Regions from separate parts of the Homo sapiens genome. Here regions 1 and 3 are each linked to region 2. Evidence: fine-mapped expression QTL. A gene starts in region 2. Each other region holds a variant in brackets. All regions are shown on one strand. Distances are between the middles of the regions. Region 1 has its middle 30 kb from the start of NHEG1. Region 2 holds the start of PEX7 (peroxisomal biogenesis factor 7). Region 3 holds the start of MAP3K5 (mitogen-activated protein kinase kinase kinase 5).

The links. PIP is the estimated chance that this variant, and not a neighbour inherited with it, causes the effect.
Region 1: its variant is fine-mapped to the expression of PEX7 in atrial appendage (GTEx, PIP above 0.99).
Region 3: its variant is fine-mapped to the expression of PEX7 in monocytes after Pam3CSK4 (Quach 2016, PIP 0.95). The same link has a PIP of 0.9 or more in monocytes after LPS and monocytes after R848.

What each region holds. Positions count from the first base shown.
Region 1 is chr6:136,959,412-136,967,595 of GRCh38, reverse strand. No RefSeq gene overlaps it. Among named protein-coding and RNA genes, the nearest start is that of NHEG1, 30 kb to the left of the region's middle. The variant G/A (reference allele first, on the strand shown) is at 4,156.
Region 2 is chr6:136,817,998-136,826,181 of GRCh38, reverse strand. PEX7 (peroxisomal biogenesis factor 7) reads right to left here and starts at 3,590. Exons shown (of 10, transcript NM_000288.4): 1 at 3,387-3,590; 2 at 911-968. The coding sequence starts at 3,516. RefSeq lists enhancers at 2,980-3,139, 2,521-3,253, 3,254-3,986, 3,870-4,019 and a silencer at 3,310-3,689.
Region 3 is chr6:136,790,132-136,798,315 of GRCh38, reverse strand. MAP3K5 (mitogen-activated protein kinase kinase kinase 5) reads left to right here and starts at 5,839. Exons shown (of 30, transcript NM_005923.4): 1 at 5,839-6,606. The coding sequence starts at 6,159. RefSeq lists enhancers at 4,759-4,838, 5,209-5,268, 5,379-5,608, 6,399-6,468, 6,574-7,089 and a silencer at 5,629-6,268. The variant C/T (reference allele first, on the strand shown) is at 4,696.

The sequences.
Region 1 (8,184 bases), 140 kb before region 2:
CTACCTGGAGATCTCCAGGCTGGATGGTGGCTCCAAGGAGGCACAGTCATGGCATAGTGGCTCTAGGGGTGCACACCACAGCTTCCTATGGTAGGTCCCTCCAGATTCGGACCCTATGTGCCTGTGCCTGTGTCTATGCCGGTCAGCAGCATCATCTTCTTCCCTCACAGATGTGTCCCTTTTCCTTCTGCATGCCCCACTGCAGGGAAGTAGAAGGTTGGAGGACCAATGTACAGGAGCAGGGGTGACTATGTGTATCTGATCTAGTGTAATCCCTGGGTGTGGTTCTAGGAAGTTTGTCAACCTTAAACTAATTTACTTCCCTATCACTAATTCACGAGTTCTATTGACTGAACAAAAAGTGCAAAAAAAGAAGGTAGTGAATTCATCAATCATAGAAAAGGGCTATATTAAGCTTACTGTACAGCTCAAACTGATATTTACCTAAGCACCTTCCCCAGACAGCTATAAAAATAACTGTTGCCATCACAAAGAGAAAGAAAACGACCTAACTGTTCTGGTTAAAAGGTGATGAGGGGCCAGGTGTGGTGGCTCGCGACTGTAATTCCAGCACTTTGAGAAGCGGAGATAGGCAGATCACCTGAGGTCAGGAGTTCAAGACCAGCCTAGCCAACAAGGTGAAACCCCCATCTCTACTAAAAATACAAAAATTAATTGGGCGTGTGGCACATGCCTGTTGTCCCAGCTACTTGGGAGACGGAGGCAGAAGAATTGCTTGAACCTGGGAGGCAGAGCTTGCAGTGAGCTGAGATTGCGCCACTGCACTCCAGCCTGGGCAACAGAGTGAGACTCTGTCTCAAAAAAAAAAAAAAAGAAAAGGAAAGAAAAGAAGAAACAAGGTGATGAGGAGAAATCATCTAGAGAAGGGAAAGAGATGGAAACATAAACAAAATGAAACATACTAAATATTCACTACATGATCTGGAGCAGAGGATAGAATCACCTGCACATCACAAACCTGTACTTTCTGAGGAGAAGGATTTACAAACTAACCCATTCCCAAGTGAGGCTGCTTAGCCACATGCAAGATGTAGCGTCATGGGAATTCATCCGGGCAGTCGCCTCCCAGGTCTTGTGAGCGCCACCATCCTGTTCTGGTCCCTCGTGTGCAGTGAGGCACAGATAGATATATGAAATTTCTAGAATAAGATCTGGAAAGAGCCACATCAAATGGTGACAGTGGTTACCTTGGGGAATGGAGGTGGGGAAAATAAGAATAGAGAGAGATAATTAATGGGAACATTAACCTATTACATCTTTTTTTGTTTGCAAACAGAATGTATTCATTTATCACTTGTGTGATTTTTTTAAACACATTAAAGATATTACAAAATCCAGTAGAAGGAGTATGGACGTAAGTTGTACTACTTGGCCTACCTGGGCCCCAGCTCTGTCTATATCTTACTGGTGGGTCTAGCTTTGGGCAAGACACTAAAATTCTTGAGCCTCCATTTCCTCATCTGTAAAATGAAGGCATTAATATGTAACTCACAGGGTTGCTGTATTGATTGAGATTATAATAGCAACTGAAATACAGTTGGTCCTTAATAAATGCTTAAGAAAAGAGAGATCGTGGTTGGACACGGTGGCTCATGCCTGTAATCCCAGCACTTTGCGATGCCGAGGGAGGTGGATCTCCTGAGGTTGGGAGTTCGAGACCAGCCTGACAAACATGGTGAAACCCTGTCTCTACTAACAATACAAAATTAGCTGGGCATGATGGCACATGCCTGTAATCCCAGCTAACCGGGAGGCTGAGGCACGAGAATCACTTGAACCCAGGAGGCAGAGGTTGCAGTGAGCCAAAATCGCGCCATTGCACTCCAGCCTAGGCAACAAGAGCAAAACCTGTCTCCAAAAAAAAAAAAAGAAAGAAAGAAAGAAAGAAAAAGAAAAAGAAAGAAAGGAAAAAAAAGAAAAGAGAGTCCATTACCCAGATCAGAGGTGATGAAGGCTTATAAAGATGGTGGCAAAGAAGATGAAAAAGAAGAGAAAGATGGGAGAGACATTTCAGAGACATGACAGAAATGAAGGCGATTTGCCAACAAAGCCAAGGCTTAGGACCCTGCACCCCCATGCTATCCCAAGCTGACCTTTGTGCCTCTTTTCTCTTTCCAGGCTGCTAGGATGTTGCTGTTGTGTGAGAATATGAAGGGGGATGAGAAAAAAACAATGGAATGGAATGAATTCAAGACCAAATAAAGTCCGTGGTGAGACTTTTAAATATTCATATTCGTCAATGGCAATTTTGTAAAAGAATTTGCAATGCCCCTACTTTCTGTAAATGAGTGGGTACCCCCATCCTAGGGATATCCTCATCCTAATACCTCTCTTTAGGACAGCCTGTCTCTCCCTCTAAGCCATTCTTGGTGGAGATGATACCATCTTCCAGAAGACAAAAATTGTTCTTGGGAAACAAAAATATCTTACTATGTTAATGTGTAAGGCACAGATACACACAGAGTACACACGCAGATAAGCAGTATGTTTGTGGTATTGAATTTTGTGGGGAGGATATCAGAAAAAAAATCTAAAAAGGTTCTTTAGAGAGGTGACAAAAAAAGTCAGGAAACTCTAGTCTATACCCTAATCACCTTTGGAGCAGGGATTCTGAATTCACGTTCACTGTGGAATTCTCCTTTGGGAATGTCTCCATTGTGGAATGTCTCCATTGTGGAATGTCTCCACTGGGAACATTCAATGGGCTGAAATGATAAACAATGTGAGCTGGCTTCCTTGGAAGTCACTTAGGTAGTGAGGTGTTGTGGCCAATCTCGTGAAGTAACCTTATAAGTTACTTCCTCATGAAGTAACCTTAAAAGAGAGCACCTTCTGGAAGCTCCCCTAGGCCTCCCCTCCAGTATCGTCTCATTTGCCTGACTTGAATGAAGTGCCTTTTCCAGAACCAATCACAAGCAAGGGACTGAAATACCCCTGAGACCTGCAGGACCTGGACCTGGAAGTGTTGGCTTCCCCTGAGGCACAGACACCGCCCAGGGGCAGGGGAGTGGCAGGGACCCAAATAAAATGAGGGTTCTATAAGGAAGGAAAAAGGAATGAATAGACTTTGGTCTAGGTGGGGCAGAAAATGGTGTCCATGTAATTACTGACTCAAATGTTCCCAAACAGTTTTGTTAAGAGAAACAGGCTTCTACCTTGTTACCTCCATATTTTATTAGCTTTTGACAGAGCAAACAATTTTTAAAGTTGTGATTTTGGTCACATTTATTTTGGCTAGCTATTAATTTAGACACTCGAACCATAGTTGTATCTTTTCACATCATATGCATTTCACAGTATGTTGTGGTCTCTTATTTAAGCAATGTGAGAGGTGAGAGAGAGAGCACGCGTGTATGTGTCTTAGGATTTTTCTGGGGACAGGAATAGCATGTTAAATAGGGAACATGGATCTGAGAACCTGGGGACCAAGGCTATTATTGCCTTCACTTTACTGAGTTAAGTGGGTGACAGCAGGCAAGTTAAGTGGGTGGCACCCAGTCCTCTGAGCTTTGATTTTCTCACTTCTTATTAAATAAAGAAAAGATTATCAAAGTCTCTGCCATCTCCCAGATTCTATGTCTTGGAATTTGCTTTTTTTTTAAGCTATATTATAGATTATAGAAGTTTGTAGGGTTTTATTTATATTGTTGCTTTGGCTAACTATTTGGAAGCTTATTAGTAATTATTTCTGATATTTTGAACAGAAGCAAGCTCTCAATTATAATATTGTTTTGATGGAAAAATATAATCTATTTAACTATAAAACCTTGTCACATCACAGTATCCAAGAAGAAATATTTGCACCATCAGATGAAGCCTGCTATATTCAGTTTTAAATGAACACATTCAATCTTTTGGCAGGATGGATGGATGGATGGATGGATGGCTGGATGGATGGATGGATGGACACACAGATATCTGAATGAATACATGTTCTTGCTGTTTGATCTTAGGTATAATTCACAGGTGACACTGAGGAAATTAAGTGGCAGGTGTATGTCATTCAGCAATTAGGAACGGTTGGACATTGTCCCTATTCTAATAATAGGCCTATGGATGGTCTGCAGCTTGAGTCCACATCAGCAGCACACTCTATTTGTCAGCTTCCCAAAGGACATTCTGGCATTTTCATTA[G/A]ACTCTGCTTTCTTTCTATTAACACATCTGAACAGAATGTGCCCTTGCAAAGGGAGGCCAGTGACAGCATTTAAGTCTGTAATGTCAAAGAAAATCTCCAGTGGTAGATACACTTCCCTGGTCTCTTTTCCCTTAAGGATTATGAGATTTATATACCTAACGAGTCAGAGTGTGTTTTCTTTCTATGCAGTATCCCATATCCAAATAAATAATGAAATAAATACATAAGCACAAACACCACATGCACCTTTTGCCATTTACTGAGTCAGTAAGATTTTGACATTAGTAAGAGCAGCAATGAATTATGAATGTTTCTAAGAGAAATTTTTAATCCAGGAGGACTTTTTAAAAGGCACTTTTCGATTCTGGCCTAATAGATTAGTATAATCAAATAGCTGTTGTTTAAATTATTTAGTTATTCCCAACTAATATATAAAGCCCAACTGACAAAAACCAATTCTAAAATCCAGGCTGAAAAACTCCACTGTCTACGCTTCCTCATACTCCCCATTCAGTGGAAGATCTACACTGTCAACACCACATTGTGATTGTTGCTTTAGCTGCCACTTCCTGCAGCTGCCATCTGGCTGATTAGAAGTGGGGAAGGCCTATGGTGACAAGCCCTCGGGGCATTTTTCCAACCCTTTAGGAAACAGAAGGAAACGCTTGGGACTCTAATTACAGACTAATAAATAGTTCAAGCAGCCTTAAAAAGAAGAGGTTGTGGGTCCGAAAGGAGTTGATCCCTTCATCTACCATATTCCACACTCTCTCTTAGTGCCCCTTTTTCATTTTAGAAGATTCCCTATTCTTTTCTTTTTTGTCTTTCCTTTCTTTGTTTTTTTTAAGATGGAGTCTCACTCTGTCCCCCAGGCTGGAGTAGAGTGGCACAATTTCAGCTCACTGCAACCTCCACCTCCCAGGTTCAAGCAATTCTCCTGCCTCAGCCTCCTGAGAAGCTGGGATTACAGGCGTGTGCTACCATGCCCGGGTAATTTTTGTATTTTTAGTAGAGATGGGGTTTCACCATGATGGCCAGGAGGGTCTCAAACCCCTGACCTCAGGTGATCTGCCTGCCTCAGCCTCCCAAAGTGCTGGGGTTATAGGCGTGAGCCACTGCACCCGGCCCTTTCTTTCTTTCTTTCTTTTAGTTACAAATCTGAATGGCCAACCCATGGCCCCACTGTTAGAACCTAAGCATTTCTGCTCTGCATCACGCCTATGACCCTACCCAATGATTCATTTATGAGTGTCTATTATGCACCAGGTGTGGAACTAAATGATGGGAATTCAAAGACAAAGTAAAATCTTGCCTTGAAAGTACTTAAAACATAATCGATCCAATACCCTTCACTATCTTTATTTATCTGCATCTCTCTCTCTCTCTCTCTCTCTCTGCCACTGTTTATTTTGGCTCCATGTAGCCCAGAAGTTAAGAATACAGGCTCTGCGCTCAAATGGGACTCGAATCTCAGTTCCACCTTCCATCCCCACACGTCCAGAGTTCTTGTCCTGTTCATATGTTCAGTAACTTACTCATGGTCACACAGCTTTTAAGAGGTGGAACCAGAAAGGGACAGAGCCATGATCCAAAGCCAAGCAGTCTGACTTCTGATTCCATGCACCAAACTACAGTGCTTGTTAAAAACTGGGGAAAATATTTCAATATCTGTATCAGACGAACGGTTAATATTAAAACCTTTTCTGCTTTTCCAAAATACACACATGCTATTTTTCACTTAAAAATGTATAATGTAAAGTTCCTTCCAGGTTCTTACTATACTTTTTTTTTTTTTTAAGATAGTCCCACCCAGGCTGCAGTGCAGCAGCGCAATCTTGGCTCACTGCCACCTTCACCTCCCAGATTCAAGCAATTCTCATGCCTCAGCCTCCCAAGTAGCTGGGATTACAGACATGCACCACCACACCTGGCTAATTTTTGTATTTTTAGTAGAGACAGGTTTTGCCATGTTGGCCAGGCTGGTCTCGAACTCCTGGCCCCAAGTGATCCTCCTGCCTCGGCCTCCCAAAGTGCTGGGATTACAGGTGTGAGCCACTGCACCCAGCCTTAATATACATTTATATAATTATTTTAATAATTTAAAAATCCTATATACATGTAATCCATATAGTCCAGCTATACATATATGTATAGCATACATATACGTATATCTACAAATATATATGTATTATATCATAGTATTTATTATTTATATGTTTATAAATATATATTTATATATTTAACCAATCTCCATTGTTGAGCATTTAGGCTGTTAACAATTTTCACTAGTATAAATCACAGTGGCCATACTCCTGATAAACACAGGTATATCTATGTCTATTTATTTCTTCAGGATAAATACCTACAAGTAAAATGCCAGATCAAAGAATATTCACTTTCTAATACTTTTAAGAGCTGAAGCCCAAGCGCCCTTCGGGAAGCCTCAAGCCAACAGGATGTAAGAGCATCTGCTTCCACCACACCCTTGCCAATGCTGATAAAATTTTGTCAGACTGAGAAGTAGAAGCTTTTCAAATATCTGTTTCTATTGATTAATAGTTGAACATTTCTTTGTTAGGTAATAATCATTTGTAATTCTTTTGCAAATTGCCTTTCCTGTTTTTTTTTCTAATAGAGTTTTGAAATTTTTCTTATCGATTATAATTTTTTCCTTATTATTTATATTAACCTTTTGTCTGATACAGATGTTGAAATATTTTCCCCCAATTTTTAATAAGCTTGGTAATGGAGAATTTTTTTGCCCTATAAAAGTTATATGTGGCTGGGCACAGTGGCTCACACTTGTAATCCTAGCACTTTGGGAGGCTGGGGTGGGCAGATCGCTTGAGCCCAGGAGTTCAAGACCAGCCTCAGCAACATGGTGAAACCCAGTCTACAAAAAATACAAAAATCAGCTGGGCATGGTGGCATGCGTCTGTGGTCCCAGCTACTCCTTCTAGGGAGGCTGAGGTGGGAGTATCACTTAAGCCTGGGAGATGGAGGTTGCAGTGAATCCTGATCCCGCCACTGCACTCCTGCCTGGGTGACAGAGCGAGACCCTGTGTAGCAGGACGAGCCGCAGACAAAACTCCTCTGACACTGGGTTAAAGAAGGAAGGAGCTTTATTTGGCTGGGAACTTCAGCAGACTTGCATCTCAAAAGCCAAGCTCTCCTCACTAAGCAATTCCTGTCCATTTTAAGGGCTTACAACTCTAAGGGGGTCCGTGTGAGAGTGTCCTGATGGATTGAGCAAGCAGGGGGTACTGCATGCACCAGTAATCAGAACAGAACAGAACAGGACAGGGATTTTCACAGTGCTTTTCCATACAATGTCTGGAATCTATAGATAACATAACCGGTTAGGTCAGGGGTCGATCTTTAACTACCAGGCCCAGGGCGCGGCACTGGGCTGTCTGCCTGTGGATTTCATTTCTGCCTTTTAGTTTTTACTTCTTTCTTTGGAGGCGGAAATTGGGCATAAGACAATATGAGGGGTGGTCTCCTCCCTTACCTGTACCCGCCCCCAAAAAAGAAAAAAATGATATGTGTGTGTACACGAGGCAGGATATTTGCCTGACCCCTTTGTGGGACTCGAGACAGGGGTGCATCGTTTACTCAGCCCACAGCTCTCCACTCCTCACAGGAGGGAGTGCACGAGCAAACAAGGCGGGGACTGGAGTGCACGAGGCCTGGAACTGGCCAGCCGCTTCGGCACCAGCAAGAGCAAGCTCTGTGCGGGCCCCATGGCAACATCCAGGTGGGGGTGCCTGTGACACCTGGAGCCCCAGAGGGCGTGTTACAGTGCTCTCTTAGCTCTGCTGTCCTCTGATGGCTTAAGTGTTAACAGCTCAGTGAGCCCTTTGCCTCGTCGTGTGAGACGACTGCCCTCCACCAGCGAGGGCAAAGGGCCAGTGTGACAGCCTTTTATGTCCACACTTGTGGCTCCCAAGCTCTTGTCTGGCATCCAGGAAAAATGAGGTCGCATGAACGAATTGAAGGATGGTAAATGCAGGGGATTTTATTGCCAA
Region 2 (8,184 bases):
AACTACGGGAGTTAAGTAGAGTAGGTACTTGACAAATATGGCAACAGATTCAGAAAGGTTAAAAAAAACAGTCCAGTGGAATGTAGTAGTCCAAAAATGTAATAGTACACAGTATACTGCTCCACATTTTTTTATGTTTAAATTTTATAATTTATGAGTGGACACTAAGAGACAGGCTTCAGATTTGTTTTGTTTTTTATTTGAGAGAAAGAGTCTTGTTCTGTCATCCAGGCTGGAGTGTAGTGGCCCAATCACAGCTCACTACAGCCTTGAACTGGACTCAAGCAATCCTCCCACCTCAGCTTCCCAAGTAGCTGGGACTACGGCCTAAAAATTAAAAAAATTTTTAGGCTGGGCCCAGTGGCTCACGCATATAATACCCACTTTGGGAGGCCAAGGTGGGCAGATCACCTGAGGTCAGGAGTTTGAGACCAGCCTGGCCAAAATGATGAAACCCCATCTCTACTAAAAAATACAAAAATTAGCCGGGTGTGGTGGCGGGCACCTATAATCCCAGCTACTTGGGAGGCTGAGGCAGGAGAATCACTTGAACCCAGGAGGGGAAGACTGCACTGAGCCAAGATGGCGCCACTGTACTCCAGCCTGGGTGACAGAGCCAGACTCTGTGCATAAAAAAAAAAAATTTCTTTTAGAGACGGGGTCCTCCTATGTTGCCCACGAGGCTGGTCTTGAACTCCCGGCCTCAAGTGATCCTTCTGCCTCAGACTTGGGAATAGCTGGGACTACAGGTGCGCACCACCACAATCAGCTAAAAATAAGCTTCATCCTATGCAAACGCCAAGGTTCCTTTTATACTGTATATTAAAACATTAATCAAAGAGTCAAAACCTAATTCTATTAAGGCTTTAATAGCAACAATATATACCTTTAATAATTTCAGCCCCCTTACCTTCTAAAAAGCCTTAGCCCAGCTTCATCTGGATCCAATATTAGTAGGGTTCCACAGCCTAAAGAGAAAAAAAATCAAGGTCATCCCTTTGAACCTGCCAGGGTAACATCGAAAGTCAAGGAGTTATCAAGTAATTGATACCTGATTTTAATACCACAAATTTTTCCCCAAAGTATTTGGGACCTTGAATACCAAATGGTCAGGTGATCAATTTCTCCCTAAAGTTTTTGGGACATGAATACCAAATGTGTTCTCTATTTCTGTTTTTCCATATTGTACTTCAGTTACTAAATATTCAACTTCCCATTGCACCTATGATTGGAATTCAGACATGGACCTAACAGGGGGGTGAAATACTTAAGGGCCTACTCTGTAGCCAGACAAGGCACCAGAGACACAAACCTTCCAAGTTGGTGTTATCATTCCTACTGACAGATGAGAAACCTCTGGCTTACAGACCCCAGGGACTGCACTCCTCACCAGTAAATCTAAAACACATCTCACACAGGATTTTAAAACAAAATATGAATGCGGAGATACTTGGTGGGATTTACTACATAACTGGTGGTAATAAAGTGCTGAAAACAGTATTAATATGTTACCTGTCAAAGATTATTTTACCAAAGGGCCATTGTATTTTAAAAGTTATGTTTACTTTTTATAGAGACCAAGGGGGAAAATCTCTTCTATTTAAACATGACTGAATTTTTTTTTTTAAATACCAATTCCCTTTAAAGAGTTTTTGCATAAGATTTTAAGTAGCATTACAGGCCAGTCACAGTGGCTCACGCCTGTAATCCCAGCACTTTGGGAGGCCAAGGCAGGAAGATCGCTTGCACCCAGTTCCGGACCAGCCTGGGCAACATAGTGATACCCTGTCTCTACAAAAATAAAAAATCAAAAATTAGCCAGGTGTGATGGTACATGCCTGTGGTCCCAGCTACTGGTGAGGTTGAGACAGGAGGATCATATGAGCCCAGGAGGTGGAGGCTACGGTGAGCTGTGATTGCACCACTCTACTCAACCTAGGCAACAGGGTGAGACCCTGTCTCTAAAGAGAAAAAGAAAAAAGAAAAAAAGAAAACTACTACCATTATAGACTCATGAGTCTTCAGTCTAACTGGTGGGCCATGTAAATCTGAATGTGCAAGCACTAAGAGCTAATAATGAAAATAAATCAAGTATTTCTCTGAGTTTTAGAAGTAACATTTTTTTCTGCTGTAGGACAAAACAAAAAAATACAATAGACCACTGACATTATGAAATGAGTTTTTGCATCTCGCTTCAGTGCGTATAATAGCTAGGACATGAATTAAGGCAAAAGCGAGAATGAACCTACGCCTTTTCATCTAGTCCACGGACTAGATGGACTCTTTTTTTTGAGACGGAGTTTTGCTCTTCTTGCCCAGGCTGGAGTGCAATGGCACGATCTCGGCTCACCGCAACCTCTGCCTCCTGGGTTCAAACTATTCTCTTACCTCAGCCTCCCGAGTAGCTGGGATTACAGGCATGCGCCACCACGCCCGGCTAATTTTGTATTTTCAGTAGAGATGGGGTTTCTCCATGTTGGTCAGGCTGGTCTGGAACTCCCGAACTCAAGTGATCCGCCCACCTCGGCCTCCCAAAGTGCTGGGATTACAGACGTGAGCCACCGCACGGCGCTTGGCCTTTTTTCTTTTTAAGACGGGGTCTCAGTCTGTCACCCAGGCTGGAGTGGAGTGATGTGATCTCAGCTCACTGGGCTGGGGCAGAGTGATGTGATCTCAGCTCATTGTAGCCTCAACATCCCGGGCTCAAGCGATCCTCCCGCCTCAGCCTCCTGAGCAGCTTTAACCACAGGCTGAGCCAATGCGCGCGACGGGAGACAATTAACTGGAGTCTGTAACACCTACTTGCGAATGTGTGCATTCCTCGTTAGACAACTACAGGTAAGAACTGAACTTGATATATTTCATGGTGTCACCCGTGGGACTCCAGGCGTCCATTCAGGAGCATCGTCCTTAGGAAGGCCAGCCCGCAGGTCGCAGCTCAGTGCTCGAATGCAGACTGGGAATTGTGGGCCAACTCGCGAGCCCTGGGTCGGTTCTGGCTCAGACCGTCTTCCCCGTACTGCTGTGCCGAGCGGACCGATCCAAGGGACCGCGCAGGCTCCCCCGGCTCTCCCTACGGGGACGTGTGCCTGGGCGTGTGACACGTGGCGGAGGCAGCGCGGTCTCAAGGAACAAGGACACGGGCTACTAGGCTACACGTATATGCACTTGCACACAACTGGAAGATCGACTCCTGCTTCAGACCAACTCCTCGCACTCGGCAAAGAAAGGAGAAGCGCCGACCAGCGCCTCTTCTGCCCCCTGGCGTGGACCCGCGGAACCGTCTACGCTCAGAGGGGCTTTCCCTCGAGCGCGAGGAACTGGAGCCCGGCTGGCCCCCGCCTCCGCCTCCGCCCCCCGGCCCCAGCTGCGCGGCGCCGCCTCACCCGCGATGCCGTAGTGCTGCGCGGTGGCGCAGGCCAGGCGGCCCGGCAGGTACGGGGAGAACTCGGCGGCGTAGCCGTGGCGTCCCGGCGTCCGCAGCATCCGCGCCGCTCCACCGCACACCGCACTCATCCCGCCCGCCGCCCCCGGCCCTCGCTGCCCCGGCCGCGGAAGCCGTTCCGAGTCGGAGGCACACTGGCGCGGTTAGAGAGACCAGGCAGACCGGACGGAAGTGTGGGCCCCGTGCCCTGTGTTTGAGATTCTGATTGGTCCGCACAGGAAAGGGCGTTGACTCCGACGGAGACCATTTTTGTTTTGGGTGAATCCAAACTGAATTGCGCCTGCTGCAAAGATACAGATCTATCAGGGGAGTGATCCAGGGTTAGGTATTATTAATAATTACGACAGCTTTTGTCGTTGCATCTCAGCCTCCTCTGCGGTGCTATCTGGTTTTTATTTCATTGAGCGTTTGGAAGACTGGCATCAGGAACTTTTCCTGATGATTATAAAGTGAGAAAAGTTACAGCCGACTCTGAAACCACGCAGCGCGTCCAAAATTGCGTGCTGCGTTGCCCAAGGAAACTGGAAGCAATGAGAACTTAAGTCCGTGGAGTCACTGCGGTCTTTAGGAATAAGAGCGTGGGCTGGTGGGCTACTTTCACACTGTAACTGGAAAAGATGAAACACCAACTCCAAACCAACTCCCCATGCTTGGCAAGTGAGAAAAAGGAGCTGGCCAGTTCTAATGAAGCTAAGCAAAAAAGCAGCACATCATCATATACAACTTTTTTAAAAAGTATTACTATACATGTATATATTGTATGGTAATAAGTGCTCAGATGCTGGTGCTCATTCATTCATTTATTGCCAGGCATATACTATGTGGAGAATGACCAAATATAATTTATCTGCCAAACCAAGATACTTTTGAGAGTAAAGAGGGTGTAATTATTAAGCCAGGTCAACAGGCACAAACCAAGTCGTATGATCATCTTAACCATATACCAAGAACAGTACTAGGCATTTGGGATTCAAAATAATGGGATATGGTCCATGGCCTCAAGAGATTAGAGAAGAAGACTAAAAGAGAAGTCATGTAATTAGTTAAGTGTAATCAAAATACTGTAGAGGCTATGATAAATTTATATGGGGTATTTTTAAAAGGTGATTGTCCGTGCCAGAGGTATGGAAATTGCAGGAAAGGCTGCAGAAGAGAGATAAGTCTTTATGGTGATTGCACACAGATGAGTAGGTTTTCTTTAGGTAGACAAGAAGATGGAGATCTTTGTAGGAGCAGGAATAACATGAGCAACCCAGGAGATTTAAACCAGCATGATCCATAGGGGGTCGTGGCTGCCAGGACTCAGCCTGGCCAGATGGAAGGGATACGGTGAAAAAAATATTGGGTGGGGAGACTGTAGAGTGTTTTACTGGGGCTAGATCATGAAGAGTCTTATATACCATACTAAGAGAATTGGATTTCTACTGTAAACAGTGAAAAACAGTGGAAGTTTTCTAATGTGAGAAATTAAATGACCAAGGTTTTATTTTAAAAAGTCCTGCAACACTAATATGGAGGATAGAGTTTGGAGATGGGGAGGCCAGTTAAAAGACTTTTGCAGGCCGGGCGCGGTGGTTCACACCTGTAATCCCAGCACACTAGGAGGCCGAGGCAGGCGGATCACTTGAGGATCCAGACCAGTGTGGCCTCTATTATTTTGGATTTTTATCATATGTAGTCACTGGAATGTATGCTGCATGAGGGCAGAAATTTTTGCTTGTTATGTTCGCTGTTGTATCCCAAGGACCTGGTATTTAAGCATTCAGGAAATGTTGAGTGAATGCAGCCTAATACAGTGCCTAAATGATCAGTGTGTTTTTCGTAATACTACAAAAAGTAACCTGGAAACATTCTGGAGTTTATTGAAATGCTAAATAGGCGTTAATAAAATATCAAAGTAAGCAAACATGAAGCAGCTGGGACCTTGGCAAAGAGTTGTATATAAAGAGTTATCCAATCTAAGCTAAAAATAGTGTGGTATCTCTGGGAGGGAGAAAGGCTGGTTCCAGCTGGGGTAAACTATTTACAGTGACCTTGGACATACACACACACACACAAACTGAGCTATTACCTGCTCCTTACCTAACCATACATGATTATAGCATTGTAAAATATTTCATCCCACCTGTGAAGCTTTCTAAAATATAAACAACTAAACATATAAAAAATAAACCATACTCTTACACTAGATTTTGAGCATCTCGAAGTAATGTCCAAGTCTAATTTGTTTGTGTCTCCAGTACCTTGAAGAATGTCCAATATATAGTAAACACTGCACAAATGTTTGACAACTTGAGGTGAACTGGAAAATTAAGGAAAAGGAACATGAAATGCTCCTTAGATTCTCCTTGTCCCCTGCCCTTGCTCCACACCCCTTCCTCCACCCATGCTTTACTAAGTGGAGTCCAAGTTTGCTAGGGGTATGGATAGAATTGGAGTTAAGAATTGCCTGGAAGGGACGGGCATGGTGGCTTATGCCTGTAATCCCAACAATTTGGGAGGCCAAGGCAGGCAGAACACTTGAGGTCAAGAGTTTGAGACCAGCCTGGCCAACATGGTGAAACCCTGTCTCTACTAAAAATACAAAAATTAGCCAGGCATGGTGGTGGGCACCTGTAATCCCAGCTACTCTGGAGAAGGCTGAGGCAGGAGAATCGCTTGAACCCTGGAGGCAGAGGTTGCAGTGAACTGAGATCACACCACTGCACTTCAGCCTGAGCGACAGAGCGAGACTCCGTCTCAAAAAAAAAAAAAAAAAAAAGACTCTTTTTGTTGTCTTCCACCTGTTCTTGTCATTGTTTAGGAGTACTTGGTATTTCCCAACTGAGACAGAAACCATTTTTTATGAGCATTCATTACACCTCAGAGTTGTGTAACTTCTAAACTTGGCCAACTCTGTGGAAGACCATTTAACTCTGTGGAAGGCCTAATAATGTAGGCAGACATGGCTAGATGTCAGGTTTCTATAAGGATCTACAATTATATTTAGATTGTTTTGTTTTATAACTGCTATGGTGACCTCACAAAGACTCTAACTGCAAATATTTACCAACCCACATCATTTTTAAAACTAGTCTATCTTTCCCATGGAGAGAGACCAGAAGTAAAATAATTGAAATACGTGGTCTTTCTACCCAGGTGAATCATTATCCTAGGTAAATCGGCAGGCTGCATATGGTAGTTATGGGAAATAATTCCAAGAAAGGATGGATAATTTCATTGTTCCTTTTAGCTCTGCACAGCATTGTGCTGGGTACCTAGTTAGCCTTTAATCAATGTTTGCCAGAGGGTTAATGTAATCATCATCCAAGAACTTTAAGCACTATCTTCAAATATATGATGGATACTTGGACTGATGCACTTTAGAGACCCTTAAAGCTCTGAGAGTCTCTAATTATGGGCTAATTGTCTACCTTGCTCGTTTTATATCATTCATCACTTATTATTTTAGTTATACTTTCTTGTTAAAAATTTTAGAATCTGTGGTAATGTAAAATGGTGCAGCTGATATGGGAAATAGGATAGCAATTGCTTAAAAAATTAAACATAGAATTACCATATAATCTCGCAATTCCACTTTTGGGTATATATCTAAAAGAATTAAATGCAGCAATTCAAACAGATATTCGTACACTCCTGTTTGCAGCAGTATTACTCATAATAGCCAAAAGGTGAAAGCAACCCAAGTGTCCATTGGCAGATGCTATGGTCTGAAAGTTTCTGTCCCCCCCAAATTCATATGTTGAAATTTAATCACCAATGTGATGGTTTTAAGAGGTGGGGTGTTTGAGATGTAATTAGGTCATAAATGAGATGATTACCTTTATAAAAGAGGCTGGAGAGAGAGCCCTCTTACCCCTTCCACCACGTGAGGACACGGCAAGAAGTGAACATCTATGAACCAGAAAGTGGGACCTCACCAGACATAAACCTGCTGCTGATGGCTTGATGATGGACTTTCCAGCCTCTAAAACAGTGATAAATATATTTCTGTTGTTTATAAGGTACCAAGTTTATGATAGTTTGTTATAGAAGCCTGAACCAACTAAGACAATAAATGAACACATAAAGAGAATGTAATATATGCATATGGTGGAATATTATTCTTCCCTAAAGAGGAGGGATATTCTTACATGGATGAACTTTGAAGACATTATGCTAAGTGAAATAAACCAGGCATAAAAGGACAAATACCGTATGATTCCACTTATATGAGGTACATAGTGTAGTCAAATTGATACAGACAGAAAATAGAATGGTGGTTGCCAGGGGCAAGGGGAAGTGGGGAATGGAGAGTTATTGTGTGACAGGCATGGAGTTTCAGTTTAGGAAGATGAAGTTCTGGAAATAGATGACAGTGATTGTATAACAATGTGCATATACTCAACATCACTGAAATGTCTGCTTAAAAATGGTTAAAATGGTAAATTGTATGGTATGTATATTTTGCTACAATAAAATTAGAATCTTAACTAGAGTGTTGGTTTAGGACATACATTTACTGCACTTCTATGTGGAAGGAGAGAAAAAAAATATAAGAGCAATTGGTATAATCTGATCATAGTAGAAAATGCATTTAGTCTTTTCGTCTTTTTCTGGAAAGACAGCAATTAAGAGCATGGTGTTTAGAGTCAGAAACCTGGGATTGAAACCAGGCCTTATGCTTTTTAGCTTGTGTGGTGGAAAGTGTGTGACATCTATTTATCTACTTTCAGCTCTTGGGTAGGATTAATATTTTA
Region 3 (8,184 bases), 28 kb after region 2:
GGATATAAATGGAGAGTGAATCTAGAGGGGAAAATCAGAAACAGATGGCAAAAATTTCAGTTCACATTCTTGCTCTGATTCCACCATGCTACCGTGCATTCAAATATTTGCTTACATTTACAGATCTTATATTTGTAGAAATAATTCATGGCCCAAGATGATGTCATCTTCCTCTGGAGTGAATTTTGTTTCTCAAATGCAGGGAACTACCTTAATACAATTTTAGGGTTTGAGACTTCTTTCTGGGTTACTCAGATGAATGGAAGCAGGATTGCTGTCCACGTACGGGCCATCTAACCTATAGTTCACTCTTACTTGTAGGGTATATCATCTTTAATTTTGTCCTCAAGATGTTATCAAGAATTCAGTTCAGATAAACACAGGCACAAAAATCCTCAACAAAATACCAGCAAACTGAATCTAGCCGCACATCAAAAAGTTAATTCACCCCGATCAAATAGGCTTAATTCCTAAGATCCAAGGTTGGTTCAACATATGCAAATCAATAAATGTGACTCACCACATAAACAGATTTAAAAACAAAAACTAGATGAATATCTCAATAGGTATGGGAAAAGCTTTTGATAAAATCCAACATCCCTTCATGATAAAAACCCTCAACAAACTAGGCATCAAAGGAACATACCTCAAAATAATAAGAGCCATTTATGACAAACCCAGAGCTAACAAATACTGAACAGGCAAAAGCTAAAGACATTGCCCTCAAGAACAGGAACAAGACAAGGATGCCCATTCTCAGTATTCCACATAGTACTGGAGGTCCTAGCCACAGCAATCAGGCAAGAGAAAGAAATAAAAAGCATCCAAATAAGAAAAGGAGTCAGATAATCTCTCTTCCCTGAAGATAAGAATCTTTTTTTTTTTTTTTTTTTTTTGAGACAGAATCTCACTCTGTTACCCAGGCTGGAGTGCAGTGGCACGATCTCGGCTCTCTGCAACCTCCATCTCAAGTAGCTGGGACTACAGACTACATGCTCAGCTAATTTGTTTTTCAGTATTTTTAGTAGAGATGGGGCTTCACTGTGTTGGCCAGGCTGGTCTCAAACTCCTGGCCTCAAGTGATATACCCGCCTTGGCCTTCCAAAGTCCTGGGATTACAGGCATGAGCCACTGCGCCTCATCCCCTGAAGACAAGATTCTATACCTAGACTCCACCAAATGGCTCCTAGAATTGATAAACAATGTCGGTATAGTTTCAGGATACAAAATCAATGTATAAAAATCAGTAGCATTTTCATATACCAATAACGTTCAAGCTGAGAGACAAGTCAAGAACACAGTTCCATTTATAATAGCCACACACACACACACACACACGCACACAATCTAGGAATACATCCAATCAAGGAAGTGAAAGATCCCTACAAGGAGAATTACAAAACACTGTTGAAGGAAATCATAGATGACACAAACAAACAGAAAAATATTCCACGCTGATGGATTGGAAGAATCAATCTTGTTTAAATGGCCACACTGTCCAAAGCAATCTACAGATTCAATGGTATTCCTAAGAAACTACCAACATCATTTTCCACAGAATTAGAAAAACTATTCTACAATTCATATGGAACCAAAAAGGAGCCTGTAGAACAGCAGGAAAAAATAAAATAAAATAAAATAAAACCCCAAAAGAGCCTGAATAGCTAAAGCCAAAGCCAGAGGCATCATATTACCTAACTTCAAACTGTACTATAAGGCAACAGTAACCCAAACAGCACGGTACTGGTACAAAAACAGACACTCAGACTGATGGAACGGAGTAGAGAACTCAGAAATAAAGCCGTACACCTACCGCCATCTGATCTTCAACAAAGTCGATAAAAATAAGCAATGGGGAAGGACTCCCTGTTCAATAAGTGGTGCTGGCTAGCCTTATGCAGAATAAAACTGGACCCCTACCCATCACCATATACAAAAATTCACTCAAGATGGGTTAAAGATTTAAATGTAAGACCTCAAACCCTAGGAATCATAGAAGAAAACCTAGGAAATACCATTCTAGACATCGGCCTTGGGAAAGAATTTATGACTAAGTCCTGAAAAGCAATTTGCAGCAAAACGAAAAACTGACAGACGGGACCTAATCTAAACAGCTTCTGCACAACCAAAGAAACTATGAACAGAGTGTGGTGTTACGATATATATTGGTTTTCATCTGTGGTTTCTGGCTTGTAACTCCCATAACCCTCGTTATAGTCTTCTGTTATGTTGAGTGTGTTAGGCCTCAGAGGCAGGCCTCTAATTTTTTCCTGCTCTCCTTTTACCTGCTAACAACCCCCCACCTTTCTGACTGTGGGTCTTAAGACCTTCCCAGGAGAGGGTCCCATTGGATACACATGGACATAAAGATGGTAACAACAGACACTGCGGACGGGAGGGAAGGAGGGAGCAAGGGTTGAAAAACCAACTGTTGGGTGCTCTTTCTACTACCTGAGTGACAAGAACAATCGTACCCTAAACTTGAGCATCATGCAATATATCCATGTAACCTGCACATGTACCCCCGAATCTAAAATAAAACTTGAAATTACTTTAAAAAAAGCACTATTTTGCACAGCTCAGTGATTTTTAGGAATTCATGTGTGCCTTCACAGTGGGAGTGACTGTGCTCCTCCCAGAGTATTTTCTTCATGTACTTCTTCAAATACCTCCTACACTTCAGAAACTTCTCCAGATTTTCTTTATACCCTTCAACCAAAACAACATGCTGCAACAGCATGAATGTAGAAGCAGAAATGAGAATCCACTGTCATCTATTAAGCCAGACATTAAAAAGATTTGTGAAAATGCACAACGGTGTCACCATTCTTTTTGTTTTGTTTTGCAAAATACCGTTATTTTTCATTAAAAAAATTCACTTCAGCCTTTCAGCTGCCTAATTCAGATCCACAAAAATCCCACAGCCAAAGGGAACCCTGACTGTAGACTCACCCTCTGGATTCCTGTCCTTTCTTCCAGAATCTTGCCAGCTAGTTCCTCATTATCTCATAACCCTATGCTATGGAACATAAATTACCTAAACCGTGCCTTTTAGGTAGAGGGAGAATCTCTGGACCAGCTAGAAGCAGAATTTCAACATTGTATTGGGGTTTGGGTGCCTAACATAAAAAACATATTTAAAGTTAATAAATCAAAAAAGCCAGCAAAGTAAAACAAAAAATAAAAATTGTGTATGAAAATGGCTCTGAAAGGATCTGGAAGGAAAGCACAAAGTGAGAGGGTATAAAAAGTTACAGCTTTGGAAAATAGCTTGATATATAATTTCAGATTTTGTATTTCTACAGTAAAATGCTACTTGAGCATTTAGGCGTTTTAGTTTTCCACACATGAACCTCATCGATTTCCAGAGTTTGTGGTTCTTGGTGAGGATAGCGGGGAGGATTATCTTACTCCTACAAGGTTTTGGAGGTTTGACAAGTTGTTGAAAATATTAAAAGGCACATAACTATTACTAGCTCAGCAACATTTTGTTTCAGTATAATCACTGATTCACTACCTATTTTACTATTGATATTAATTCCAAAAGCTAGTGTGGGTCACATAGATTCCATTTTACATGAAGAATATAAAGTTTCCTTACTAGAAATTTACTTCTATTATTTTATACACCTTTAGAAAAATCTAATGTCACATTGATTCATTGATACAGTTGTGTAGCGGCTAGGTGTTTTTCCTCATGACTATTTCCTTCCTTCCTTTAATTATTATTTTTTTTTAAGATGGGGGTCTCACTATGTTGTCCAGGCTGATCTTGAACTCTTGGGCTCAAGCAATCCTCCCACCTTGGAGAAAATTAAAGAACTCTTTCCTTTAATTCTTTTTCTTTTTCTTTTTTTAGATGGAGTCTCGCTCTGTCGCCCAGTCTAGAGTGCAGTGTCGCCATCTCGGCTCACTGCAACCTCCACCTCCCGGGTTCAAACGATTCTCCTGTCTCAGCCTCTCGAGTAGCTGGGATTACAGGCGGCTGCCACCACGTCCAGCTAATTTTTGTATTTTTAGTAGAGACGGGGGTTTCACCATGTTGGCCAGGCTGGTCTTGAACTCCTGACCTCAAGTGATCTGCCCGCCTCGGCCTCCCAAAGTGTTGGGATTACAGGCGTGAGCCACTGCGCCCAGACTTTCCTTTAATTCTTTACTATTCAGCTATTTTATCCTTCCTTCTTACCCAGTTTGAAATGTAATTCATGGCTGGGCTGGGTGGTTCACGCCTGTAATCCCAGCACTTTGGGAGGCCGACGCGGGCATATCACCTGAGGTCAGGAGTTAGAGACCAGCCTGGCCAACATGGTGAACCCCACACCCCTCCCCCTCCCGTCTCTACTAAAAATACAAAATTAGCCTGGTGTGGTGGCGCATGCCTGTAATCCCAGCTATTCGAAAGGCTGAGGCAGGGGAATCGCTTGAACCCGGGAGGCAGAGGTCGCAGGGAGTCGAAATCGCGCCATTGCACTCCAGCCCGGGCAAGAAGAGCGAAACTCCGTCTCAAAAAAAAAAAAAAGTAATTTACATTTTCTTCTGCCTTTTTCACAGGACTCACTAGTCTCAGTTCCTGGAGATGGGAAGTACAAAACCTGTTTCTTTACTCAGTTGTAACTTGCACTGGCTTTCCTAACAATTACAGCATTCTGGGGTTCTCTGGGAACTTACACATCTGTTCTTTGCTCCCCAAATAAG[C/T]AGGTACTTTTTTTGATTGCTCTTAAACAATCTGGGTATTTCCCTCCCGGCCTCGCGTGATGCAGTTTAAAAAATAGAATAGGTCACGTTATTCCCCTGTTTCATCTTGTTGATAATTTGTGGAGTCGGGTAGAGACTCCATCTTCTATCTTAAGTATCTGGCGCTTGTGGGGGAATTAAGATCCTAAATGAGAATACTAAGTCCTTCGGCAGTTGGCACTAATCAATTACTCATTACTGATAACGGAATGAGCCACTGGAAATTTTAAAAGGAAAAGTACATGGGAGAACCTGATCAATTTAGCCAGCCACTTCTGGAGTGCCACAGTCACTAATGAAGCAACCTCCAGTGCAGGCCCTGGCTCCAGGGCGCTATGTACAACCTCCTGCCTCGCGCAACGTGGGTCTCCCGGAGCCTATCCTGCCAGCGCCGCGCACGGTCCCAGTCCACCAGGCCGCCAAGGCCCGGAGGGGGGCGCCCTAGTCGCGGGGAACACTGGAAATGCTTCAGGGGCGGACTCCGAAGACCGAGTATTGCCTCGAGGGACTTTCTGCGCCACCCCGTAATCGCTTGCGCTCCAGGTCTTCGTAGGTGGGGGCCGGGTGGGTGAAGACTGGGACCCTATGCCACGCGCAGCACTCAGAGGAGGGCTGGGGTCCCAGGGCCGCAGCGCGGTCAGTTCAGTCCGGGCTCGAGCTTCCTAGCAGCGCCCTCCTTGGGGGCTGGCCCTGACCCTCGGTGCCGCTACGAGTGGGTGGCCAGAAGCTGGTGGTGGAGAGGGAGAGCGTCTGCAAGGAACGACGAGGCTGGCGCCGGGACCACGCGGCGGAGGCGATCGAAAGAGAAACGAGGCCAGGCAAGGAGGAGGAAATCCACCCGATGAAGGCGAGCTGCCGCCTAAGAGGGAGGAGGGTCCTTTCGGCTGCCGCTGCTGCTGTTCCGGGACGCCGCCTGGGGAGCCAGCCCGCTCGTAAGGTGCGCGCCAGGTAGCTCCGCACCCAGGGGGCGCCCTTCCTGGCCCCTCCCAGAGCGGCCGGGACGGAAGGAGCTGCGCGGCGCGGCGCGGCGCGGCGCGGCGGGTGGCGAGGGCGGGCTGCACCCCGAGCGCGGCGCCCTTGAGCTGCACCGCGGCGCAGGTTTGCGAGCCGACTTGTCAGCCGGCCAAGAAAAGGAAGCTCCGTCCCTTCCCGCTCACCCGGCTTCCCCACCCCTTGTACTCTAAACTCTGCAGAGGGCGAGCGGCGCGGCCACGGAGGCGCCGAGGAGGAGCGAGCCGCCGCCGGGCAGCGGCGTGCCCTCGGGGGAGAGGGCGCCGGAGAGGAGGCGGCGGCGCGGCGGCGAGGGCGCGGCGCGCGATGGCAGCTGCTTAGCCCGGCGGGCGCGGAGCAGCCCCGAGCTGTGGCTGGCCAGGCGGTGCGGCTGGGCGGGGGACGCCGCCGCCGTTGCTGCCCGGCCCGGAGAGATGAGCACGGAGGCGGACGAGGGCATCACTTTCTCTGTGCCACCCTTCGCCCCCTCGGGCTTCTGCACCATCCCCGAGGGCGGCATCTGCAGGAGGGGAGGAGCGGCGGCGGTGGGCGAGGGCGAGGAGCACCAGCTGCCACCGCCGCCGCCGGGCAGCTTCTGGAACGTGGAGAGCGCCGCTGCCCCTGGCATCGGTTGTCCGGCGGCCACCTCCTCGAGCAGTGCCACCCGAGGCCGGGGCAGCTCTGTTGGCGGGGGCAGCCGACGGACCACGGTGGCATATGTGATCAACGAAGCGAGCCAAGGGCAACTGGTGGTGGCCGAGAGCGAGGCCCTGCAGAGCTTGCGGGAGGCGTGCGAGACAGTGGGCGCCACCCTGGAAACCCTGCATTTTGGGAAACTCGACTTTGGAGAAACCACCGTGCTGGACCGCTTTTACAATGCAGGTGCGTGTGTGACCCCTTTCCCATCCCGCGCGGTCGGGACCCGCGTTTAATCTGGCGGTCTTCGGGGCATTTCATTTTTCTGGGCGGGAAGCATTTACTTCTTGCCCCACTTTGGGGGCAGCGAGCGCCGCTGCGTGACTGCTCCTGTCGCTCGCCGCTCCGGAGAGAGCGTGTGTGCTTGTGCAAGAGTCTGTGTGTACTTGTGCGATAGACCTATGGATCCACCCACCGCCCAGCGCTGGAGCCCTGGGTCCATGCGATCGACTTGAACTGTTCTCCAGCAGTGTGAGATATTTGCCCCAGTCAGTCTTTCTCCTTTCAGTGTCTCGGTTTCGCTTCTGTGAGGTTTGGTCCCTGTTTTCTTTCTGCATATACCTGTGACCGTTTTAGATGAGGTTCTCCTTTTCTCTGTGTAGTTTTGAGAGTACGGGAACGATGACATACCATGCACGCAGAGTGTAACTATATTAATTTGCATGCCATGTGATGATCTTCCCAACTCACCTTACCTTCGATAAGTTTTAGTAGCTTGAATTTCCTCTCACCAACCCAGACTTTGAAGTAATTACAGTGCTTCCAAAGGCAATAACATTACAACTTACACTGAACTTGTGTGTTATCTTTGTAAGGATTTTGGTGAAAGAACCAGGGCCTGTTTTTTATTACCCCATAAACCATGGTGGGCTAGAAAGTTTGTAATTTAACATTGTCTAAAACACCTGTATGCTATCCTAATAATAAGATTAGTTTCGCCATTAAAGTGATTGCTAGCATAATCCATGAAAGAAATGTATCTTTCAACCTATCTCAAATTTCAGAAAATGTTAAGGCAGTTCTAGTAACTGAAGCACTTAGCTGTTAGCAAATGTTAGGAATAATACCATATTATGGAAATTAACCTTTAGTCCCCTGTACGTCCAGTGTTGAGAATATATACATATTTATGTTTACATTTGTGGGTAAAAACTTGGTTTAGTAGTTTCAAAACAATACACTTCTTGCATTTGTGATCACATAAAAGGCTTTATTTTCCAATCTTGTTTTCAATTCTGATTCTCTTTAGTGTCTTCCAAACACCTGAAGTGGGCTTATGTCAGTTTTGGAATTCAGCCAAAGCTGAATATTTTGAGAACAACAAGACCTTCATGTTAAGGAAGCCAGACTAAATAAACTAGGACTTTCTCGTTCTGGTATTTTTAAAATAGTTTTGGTCTTCATAACTGAGCATGGCTATAATATAGCTTGATTCTTTGGGTAGCTTGCTATAAAAGTTACATCAACATAACTTTTCTAAAAATTGTAGCACTCTTATTTTTGGATTATAATTTGGAAGAAACTTCAAAGAACTAAAAGATATGAGAGGAAAATACCCAACTGAACACTTGAGCCTATTTTTATTGCACTGATTGGGCGTTTTTTTCCTAGGGCTCTAGAAAAAAAATGTTAAACTCTAAGCTAATTTGAAAGAAACTTTCCTAACAAGGCTTGGTTTCTGTTATTCTCCAAATACTGTCTCTGGGAAAGGGAGAGAGAATGATTAGAAGGGAGCTGAAGTTTGAGTGTATTTCATTGAATCCT